Linked DNA regions of Homo sapiens: region 1 is linked to region 2. The links come from fine-mapping of genetic effects on gene expression. Tissue or cell type: whole blood. Region 2 holds a variant in brackets; the other region holds the start of a gene. All regions are shown on one strand. Distances are between the middles of the regions.

Region 1 (5,000 bases), 130 kb after region 2:
CAGGCAGTGTGGGAAGAGGGATACCTTTGCCTTTTAAAATTTATGTCCTGCTTTACTTCAGACATTACACTAAATAGGAGTGTTGAGTATAAAAATGAATTCACAATTAAAGTTGTTAAATTATTTGTATATAACTTTAAAAGGAGTTTTTTTGAAGCTTTGTAATTACATTGAAAGTATATTTGTTTCCTTGAAAACAATTTTTTGAAAAGTGAATAATAATATAATACAGCTTTCAAATTACTTTATGCTGTTACTTTATTTCTATTGTATTCACATGTGAAAGTATGTGATCAGTTGTTGCTGTATCAGAGATATTAGAGATTCTTTATTAGTTGGGCATTCTTTATGACCTTTTCTATAAAAGAGTAAGGACATTAAAATGTAAGATGCATGATAAAAATATAAGTAGCGAGGCTCATTGTAGTTAGCCTAAATTAAGTAATGTTTAAGGTAGGTGTTCATGGCCAGGCGCGGTGGCTCACACCTGTAATCCCAGCACTTTGTGAGGCCGAGGCGGGTGGATCATGAGGTCAGGAGATCGAGACCATCCTGGCTGACACACTGAAACCTCGTCTCTACTAAAAATACACAAAATTAGCCAGGCACGGTGGCGGGTGCCTGTAGTCCCAGCTACAGGCTGAGGCAGAAGAATTGCTTGAACCCGGGACGTAGAGTTTGCAGTGAGCTGAGATCGCACCACTGCACTCCAGACTGGGCAACAGAGCGAGACTCCGTCTCAAAAAAAAAAAAAAAAAGTAAGTGTTCAGAGTAATACTTTTCTACATTATACTGAGAGAAATTATAAATTATAAAGTATATCAAATTATATTATTTTACTAATTTTACTTTTATGTAATAAAATGCAATATATTTAAAAATTGTTAAAAAAATAAAATTTATGTCCTGCTTTTAGGCAAATGGGGAAGGCGGAGAACTTTCCACCCACGTATCTACATCGTATCTACATCTTCTCAATTGTCTTCGGCTTGAAATAATCCTTAGGCTAAAGAGGCGTATTTTGGGGTGGCACATTCTGGTGTCCTTACAGGTACACTACTTTTATTCATGTCTGTTACTACTATTACACCCCCTTCACCTTGGGCCACCCCATCCTCAGTCTCCCTCATTTTTCTTTACAGTTAGCACCATTTACCCATTCACGGAGAACCTTACAGTTCTCGCAACAGGGTGATCACTCAGTAAGTACTGTTGTCCCTTTGGTCTGTTTCTGGCAGCGATTAGCTGTGCGCATTCTTTGAGAGGAGCGACGGAGGGAACAGAAGAGGGTACTAGTGAAGAACTAAGGTGCTTCACCCAAATAGATAGGGAAGGAGGAGGAGAGCTGAGGCGAGCCTCAGCTTCTGCCTTTTTTTTTTTTTTTTTTTTTTTGAGACGGAGTCTGGCTCTGTCTCCCAGGCTGGAGTGCAGTGGCGCAATCTCGGCTCACTGCAAGCTCCGCCTCCCGGGTTCACGCCATTCTCCTGCCTCAGCCTCCCGAGTAGCTGGGACTACAGGCGCCCGCCACTATGCCGAGCTAAATTTTTGTATTTTTAGTAGAGACGGGGTTTCACCGTGTTAGCCAGGATGGTCTCGATCTCCTGACCTCATGATCCACCCACCTCGGCCTCCCAAAGTGCTGGGATTACAGGCTTGAGCCACCGCGCCCGGCCAGCTTCTGCCTTCGATGTCTTCTGAAGGAGGGTGGGCTTCGAGGCGGCAGGATGTGCTTAGGGCACTGAGTGGCCCAGAGTGGGGAGCTCCTGCAGGGTTGAGAGGACCGGCGGGGCGAGGTCGGGGCGGGGCTCGCAGGACCTGGGCGGGGCTCGCAGGGGCTGGGCGGCCTGGGGGCGGGGCTGGGCGGAGCGCGCAGCCGCGCAGCGGTGGGAGGACTGCGGGGCTCTTGAGGCCAGCTGCAGAGCTTGTGGAGGCCATGGGGCGCGTCGTCGCGGAGCTCGTCTCCTCGCTGCTGGGGTTGTGGCTGTTGCTGTGCAGCTGCGGATGCCCCGAGGGCGCCGAGCTGCGTGCTCCGCCAGATAAAATCGGTAGGCGAGAAGGGGGCGGCGCGGGAAGGTGCTGGAGCGCGCCCCGCGCCGGGCGGCCGCTGCGCAGTGCGCCCAGATCCCACAGCCGCGACGCAGTCCAGCGGTGCAGGCCGAGCCAGCTGCGCAGGTCGCGCTTTCCCCCATTCACACTTCAGGGCGGCTTTCAGCTCTGGTCGGAATAGGACTGTGCATTCCCAGGCGTGGAGAGGTGCCCACTTGAGGAATGGGCGTGGACGGGGACAGGGGCGGGCGGGCAGGCAGGCGCCTAGCGTACCTGTAGCCCCTGTCTCTTAGGTGTGGGGCTCCGGGGAGGCCTAGGTTTCTCTATCTTCCCGTTGAACACTGACCGTGAAGACTCCAGTGTTCTGGCTTGACCTGGGGCGCCCGGCCAGATTAACAGGCTCACGCAGGCACAGCACAGGGAGGAGTGCAAACAAGTTGACCCTGCCTGCTTCCCTTGGGAGGCTGAACCGCCTTCCCCCAGCTCCGCTTTGCTGAGGTCGGCCTGCTCTCAGAGGCCCTTGGCTTGCACAGTTTCTCCGCCTAGGACTAACACAGCTGCAGAAAGAATCTGTTCTCTTTCCACTGTCAAGAGCTCCAGTGTCAGGAGCCTTGGCTCTTTGCTTCCTGTCTCCCTCCCGCCCCCCTTTAAAGTTGTGTTCTTCGGTATCATTAACCTATCTACATTGAATCTAGACACAACAAAGCTAGGCATAAATGGCCGTCACTTTATTAAAAATGCGTGCTGGAAAGGTCCACCTCTAATGTGCCCGTGAGTTGGGCATCTGGAAGGGTGTGCAGGCCCCTTGGTTCCTCCATAAAGACCTGTGAGAATCTTTGGGCATCTGGAAAAAAAATCGAGTTAATGTCAATATGTTAATTAATCTACTGCTTTTGTCTGGGAACAGTGTCTGTCCAGATTCAGGGAGTTAGACCTTCGCTGCAGGTGTCACTCTTCCCCCACCAAATTGTTGGTAATAGCTTTGAGTAACAACCTCTGCTATTGATGGTCTTTCAAAAACAAAACAACTCACAGAGCTGGTAAAAGGGGAAAATATAATCTTCTGTTTTTTTCCCTCATAGCGATTATTGGAGCCGGAATTGGTGGCACTTCAGCAGCCTATTACCTGCGGCAGAAATTTGGGAAAGATGTGAAGATAGACCTGTTTGAAAGAGAAGAGGTCGGGGGCCGCCTGGCTACCATGATGGTGCAGGGGCAAGAATACGAGGCAGGAGGTTCTGTCATCCATCCTTTAAATCTGCACATGAAACGTTTTGTCAAAGACCTGGGTATGTAATTTTGGTCTTGGAGCTCACCAGATTACTGTGTGACATCCCCGGATATTTTTATCAGATGGAGAACTGAAATTTCTGCCTTGTTAATTGCCTTACAGAGACGTTGGTAAAACTGTTTTCCTCACTTTCTTGTTAGTTGGTACTGCCTGAGTTAGGAGCAGTTCTGCTGTAATGGGACACTAGTTGTCTGTATCTTCAGTTATCTGGAATTACAGCCATGGGGTGGGGGTGGGAATGGCTGCCATTGTCTTTTTTTTTCTTTTGAGGAGTTTCGCTCTTGTCGCTCAGGCTGGAGTGCAATGGTGCGATCTTGGCTCACTGCAACCTCTGCCTCCCGGGTTCAAGCGATTCTCCTGCCTTAGCCTCCTGAGTAGCTGGGATTACAGGTGCCTGCCACCACGCCCAGCTAATTTTTGTATTTTCAGTAGTGACGGGGTTTCACCATGTTGGCCAGCTGGTCTTGAACTCCTGACCTCAGGTGATCCGCCTGCCTTGGCCTTCCAAAGTGCTGGGATTACAGGGGTGAGCCACCGTGCCCGGCCTCTGTTGTCTGTTCTTAAAATTCTGGGTTTGTGTTAAAGAATCAGAGAAGGTTTGGAGATAGTCATCTCATTGTGATCATTTTGCAGCTGAGTAAATGAGACCCAGAGACTTGAATTGTCTGGCTCAAAGTCACTCACATATGGCCATGGCCAGGGTCAGTGGCTCATGCCTGTAATCCCAGCACTTTGGGAGGCCGAGGCAGAGGATCACTTGAGCCCAGGAGTTAGAAACCAGTCTGGGCAACATAGTGAGATCCTGTCTTTACTAAAAATAAAAAAGTTAGCCTGGTGTGATGGCACAAACCTGTAGTCCCAGCTTCTTGGGAGGCAGAGGCAGGAGGATCCCTTGAGCCTGGGAGATAGAAGCTGCAGTGAGCCTTGCATGCCACTGCACTCCAGCCTGGGCAACAAAGTGAGACCCTATCAAAACAAACCACCACCAACAAAACAAACTCCGTCACACAGCTGTGGATGCAGACACGTGCCTAGAACTTGGGATGTGCAACTGCTGCCCTGACAGCAGAGGAGCTGGATAGGTCATGGGGAAAGTCTGACAGGCCTCTGGAGGCCCTTTCGGCAGGGAGTATTTTGTAACTTTGGCCTCCTTCCAGTTATCTGAAATATCCAGTTTTGCAAAATAGGATTCTCACAGGAATGGAAGTGCCTCAGCTGCCTTCCACATCCTCTGTAGATGCTGCCTCTGCTTCCGTTTCCTCCACGAGGGCGAAGGTATACCCAGAACAAATTATGCCACGAAGATGCATGTCTGACATCTTTGTTTTTAAATTGAATTCAGTTGGTACTCTGGCTTTTTTCCTTTGACTATCCAGTTTTTTTAGACTTTTAGTCTAAAAATAGCCAGGTAAAAATATATCTACTTTTGATATATTAATATTTACATGATCATCTGACCCATCGCCTAGCAAATCTGCTTTTGGACAGTGTAGTGAAAGTATAGTGTTTCACACTGTTCCAAAGATAGAGCTCCTTTATGTGTCTCCTGAGAACTGAGGGAAGCCCCAAATTCACTCAGATTACGTTCTTTCATTTGATCAGCATAGACACCACTGACTTAGCTGTGCTTTATGTTTTTGCAGGTCTCTCTGCTGTTCAGGCC
Region 2 (5,261 bases):
CTCCCAAAGTGCTGAGATTACAGGCGTAAGCCATCACACCTGGCCAATTTTTAAATTAATAATGAGAGGCTGGGCATGGTGGCACACACCTGTGATTCCAGCTACTCAGAAGGCTGAGGTGGGAGGATCGTTTGAGCCCAGGAAGTTGAGGCTGCAGTGAGCTGTGTTCACACTAGTGCACTCCAGCCTGGGTGACAAAGCAAGACCCTGTTGAAAAAAAAATTTTTTAATAATGAGATATCTGACATTCTTTTTTTTACACTTGGTCTCTGAAATCAGGCTGGCTACATGTGAAGTGCTCTATAGCTACCTGCGGTCACTGTATTGGACAGTGCAGGGTTGGAAACTGGACTTAGGAGTCAGGGCTGGGTTCAAGCCCCACATTCCATCCCTTACTAGGCTGGGTAACTAGGCACATTACTTAGCCTCTCCTATTTCTGTTTCTTCATCTACAAAATGAAACTAAAAATAGTACCTACTTTATAGGGTAATTTTGTGGATTAATGGCACATGAAGCATATGGTGCATGTTCAGTAAATGTTGGCGATTATTAGCAGTAAATTTGGTGGTTATTGAATTAGTGACATTGCAGTATCACTGTTAGGGTGACCTCCATTCCCATCAGATGATGTGGCTTGAAGCTATTCCAAACGGGCAAGGTTAAAAAACAATAGGCAAACTGGGAAAACCTATTTGCAACACACATGAAAACAAAATGTTGTTATTCTTGCTATGTAGGAAGTGCTTGCAAATAAATAAGAAAATGAATACCAATGGAAAATTCAAAAGAAACAAACATCTGAAGTGATTTTTTTTAAAGACCCACTTTAAATAAGTTCAACTCTCCTTGGAATCAGACATAAAAATAAACAAAAGACATTTTTTGTTGTTGTTGAGTAACAGATCAACAGCCAGAATTTGGTGGCACCTAATATTGAAGAAGGTGTGGGGAGATACCTTCTCTTTTTAAATAAAGATTTCCTGAAGTTTCCATTGTTATATCTGACCACAGACTATCCAGAGAAACAAGCTGAGTTCTTGCTTCAAGGAGGAACTAGCCAGAGAGCCTTTTCTACCCACTTTTTCCCTTGTCCAGATAAAGCTAAACAGCCAACAAACCCCTCCTAGCAAGTTGACTTTTTTCTTGTCATGTGTGCAGACTCTGCACATTAGCTTTGCTAATAGTCCTTTACCACAGGTGTTGACATTTCACGTGGCTTGAAATAGCCCCCAGCATTGTTCTACATTTGGACAGGGCTGACATACTTAAGCCACAATACCCCCAGAATATTATTAGGCTTCTGGCTACCTCCTTCAGGAATGTTTTATCTGCCAGCAGGATTGGCTACATAATTTTTGGGGCCCAGGGGAAAATGAAAATATGGGCCCCTTTCTCATAAAAGGATGAAAAAAGCCCTTTCATTTTTTCTACAGTCTCTCTCTCAACCTGTCATGATGTTTTTATTTACTATTTATTGTTGTACTCCCTTGGACATGGAGATACTTCAGAGGTCAGTGCAGGCCCTCACAGATGCCCAGGACCATGCCGCAAGACAGCATGCATTTTCCAGTTTGGGAAAGCTTTTTTTTTTTTTGACACGGAGTCTCACACTGTCACCCAGGCTAGAGTGCAGTGGTGCGATCTCCGCTCACTGCAAGCTCCACCTCCCGGGTTCACACCATTCTCCTGCCTCGGCCTCCCGAGTAGCTGGGACTACAGGTGCCCGCCACCATGCCTGGCTAATTTTTTGTATTTTTAGTAGAGACGGGGTTTCACCATGTTAGCCAGGATGGTCTCGATCTCCTGACCTCGTGATCCACCCGCCTCGGCCTCCCAAATTGTTGAGATTACAGGCGTGAGCCATGGCGCCCGGCCCAGTCTGGGAAAACTTGATGGGGAGTGGGGTGAAGAGACTAATGCTTTTTTTTTTTATTCAAGATGGAGTTTTCACTCTTGTTGCCCAGTGCAATGGCGCAATCTCGGCTCACTGCAACCTCCGCCTCCCAGGTTAAAGTGATTATCCTGCCTCAGCCTCCCATGTAGCTGGGATGACAGCTGCCCACCACCATGCCCAGATAATTTTGTATTTTTTTTTTAGTAGAGACGGGGTTTCACCATGTTGGCCAGGCTGGTCTCGAACTCCTGACCTTAGGTGATCCACCCACCTCGGCCTCCCAAAGTGCTGGGATTACAGGCTTGAGCCACCACACCCACCCTATTTTAACCAATTTTTTTTTTTTTTTTTTTTTTTGAGACGGAGTCTCGCTGTGTGGCCCAGGCTGGAGTGCAGTGGCACAATCTCGTCTCACTGCAAGCTCCACCTCCCGGGTTCACGCCATTCTCCTGCCTCTGCCTCCCAAGTAGCTGGGACTACAGGCGCCCGCCACCATACCCAGCTAATTTTTTTTGTATTTTTAGTAGAGACATGGTTTCACCGTGTTAGCCAAGATGGTCTCGATCTCCTGACCTCATGATCCGCCCGCCTCGGCCTCCCAAAGTGCTGGGATTACAGGCGTGAGCCACCGCGCCCGGCCCCATTTTAACCAATTTTTTAAGTGTAGTTTAGTGGCACTAAATATAGTCACGTGGTTGTGCACTCACCACCATCATCCATCTCTAGAACTCTTCCATCATCCTAAACTGAAACTCTGTACCCATGAAACAACTCCTCCCTCATTCCCCTCTACCCAGCTCCTGGCAACCACCATTCTACTTTCTGTCCCTGTGCACTTGGGAGCATCACCTTTCTGGGACATCTGCAACGGTTCTCTGGAGGATTCTGTCTCCCCTTTTTTAAAAATTTATTTTGTTTTCTTTCTTTTTCTTTTTTTTTGATAGAGAAGGGGTCTCACTTCATTGC[C/G]CAGGCTGGTGTCCAACTTCTGGGCTCAAGCAGTCTGCCTGCCTTGGCTTCCCAAAGTGTTGGGATTACAAGCGTGTGGTCTCATTTTGGAGGGCAGGAGGGATAGAGATAGCCATAACCTGGAGAATATTGAGATGTGGACAACAAGGATGACAAAATTTGGTTCTATGAGAAATGATCTGTAAGGAAGAGTGGAGGGAACTGAGCATGTTCAAGACAGTGAGGTCTCGGGATGATCTCAGTTCAGGAGGTTTCAGTATATCAACAGATTTGAAAGGAGCAAGCAGGCTGGGCGTGGTGGCTCACGCCTGTAATCCCAGCACTTTGGGAGGCCGAGGCGGGCGGATCACAAGGTCAAGAGATTGAGACCATCCTGGCTAACATGGTGAAACCCCGTCTCTACTAAAAATACAAAAATCAGCTGGGCATAGTGGTGCGTGCCTGTAGTACCAGCTACTCGGGAGACTGAGGCAGAAGAATTGCTTGAACCTGGGAGGCGGAGGTTGCAGTGAGCCGAGACTGCGCCACTGCACTCCAGCCTGGCAACAGAGCGAGACTCCGTCTGAAAAAAAATAAAAAATAAAAGGCGCAAGCAGTGTGATATAACTGGAGAAGAGAAGACTCAGGCAATCACACGGACTGTCTTCACCCAAGCGAAGGATGATTATGTAGGAAAGTGCATAGAAGATGCTGTCAATAGCAATATAAAGTGAATCATGTTAACAATTTTTCAGTGGCCACATTTTTTTTTTTTTTTTGAGAAGGAGTCTTGCTCTGTTGCCCAGGCTGGAGTGCAGTGGCGTGATCTCGGCTCACTGCAACCTCCAACTCCTGGCAAAACCCTGTCTCTACTAAAAATACAAAAATTAGCCAGTCGTGGTGTTGCACACTTGTAATCCCAGCTACTCGGGAGGCTGAGGCAGGAGAATCACTTGAACCTGGAGGGCGGAGGTTGCAGAGAGCCGAGATTGCATCACTGCACTCCAGCCTGGGTGACAGAGCAAGACTGTCTCAAAAAATAATCAAACACATTTTTTTTTTAGAGTCAGGGTCTTGCTCTTTCACCCAGGCTGGAGTGCAGTAGTGGGCTCAAGAGATCCTCCTGCTTCAGCCTCCCAAGTAGCTGGGATTATAGGCATGTGCCACCATGTCTGGCTAATTTTTTTATTTTTACTTTTGAAGAGGTAGGGTCTTGTTCTGTTGCTCAGTCTGGTCTTGAATTCCTGGTCTCAAGCAGTCCTTCTTGAGACCTTGGCCTCCCAAAGCGTGGGGATTACAGGCATGAGCCAGGGGTCCTGATCAGTATTCTTTTTTTCAAGAATAAATTTGAATATGCTTCATTGCAAGGTATATTGTTTCCACTGAGCACCTAGGATTTCTCAAGTTCTTTGTATATTATATGAGTCTTTCACAGCAATGTTAAGGGACAGGTGAAATAAACATAAAATAATTCCTGGCCGGGTGCAGTGGCTCATGCCTGTAATCCCAACACTTTGGGAGGCCGAGGCGGGTGGATCATCTGAGGTCAGCAGTTCGAGACCAGCCTGACCAACATGGCGAAACCCCGTCTCTAGTAAAAATACAAAATTAGCCGGGCATGGTGGCACATGCCTGTAATCCCAGCCACTTGGGAGACTGAGGCTGGAGAATTGCTTGAACCCAGGAGGCGGGGGTTGCAGTGAGCTGAGATCGCGCCACTGAACTCCATCCTGGGCAACAAGAGCAAAACTCTGTCTCAAACAAACAAACAAACAAAAAATTCCTCTTTACAGAGGAGGCAATTAAGACCCATTGTCAATCACCTAGTAGGCATCGGGACTGGGGTTTGAAAGCACATGTCTCTAAAGTCCATGCTTTTATTTGTAATGCCAAAAGACTGGAAACAATCTAAACACCCCTTGATGGGAACCAGTTAAATTATAGTAGTCCATACAATGTAATACTCTACAGCCGCAAAGATAGATAAAAATGAGGATACTCTCATATACCGATAAGGAAATGTCACCAAGATAGGGTGTTAAAGCGGGGGAAAAACCCAACAAACGTGTAGAACGTGTACAGACTGGCACTAAATATGTTAAAATGGAGTAAGGAAGGGTATAGATTTGTTTTAGCTTGTATGTGTAGAAAAACAACGTTAGAAGGATAAACAAAAACCTTATAACAGGGTTATCTATTTAGGGTGGGGGAAAGTGGGCATTTGGGGGACAGGGACAGAAGAGATGTACATCTTTTCATTTTTTTTAGTTTTAAACATATAAATAAATTATCTGTTCAAAAAAGCAAATGCATATAAACATTTTTTTAAGCAACATGAAATTAAACAAAACTGCTGTCCCTTCCTTCCACTGTACCATGTGCCTTAGACATCTTTGGAGGGCAGTCTGTCCTCTTTTCCAG

Evidence for each region. PIP is the estimated chance that this variant, and not a neighbour inherited with it, causes the effect.
Region 1: it holds the start of PCYOX1, and the variant in region 2 is fine-mapped to the expression of PCYOX1 in whole blood (INTERVAL, PIP above 0.99).

The regions. Positions count from the first base shown.
Region 1 is chr2:70,256,232-70,261,231 of GRCh38, forward strand. PCYOX1 (prenylcysteine oxidase 1) reads left to right here and starts at 1,906. Exons shown (of 6, transcript NM_016297.4): 1 at 1,906-2,045; 2 at 3,129-3,335; 3 at 4,981-5,000. The coding sequence starts at 1,934. RefSeq lists silencers at 1,762-1,891, 2,162-2,271.
Region 2 is chr2:70,127,053-70,132,313 of GRCh38, forward strand. No RefSeq gene overlaps it. Among named protein-coding and RNA genes, the nearest start is that of LINC01816, 4.4 kb to the left of the region's middle. The variant C/G (reference allele first, on the strand shown) is at 2,862.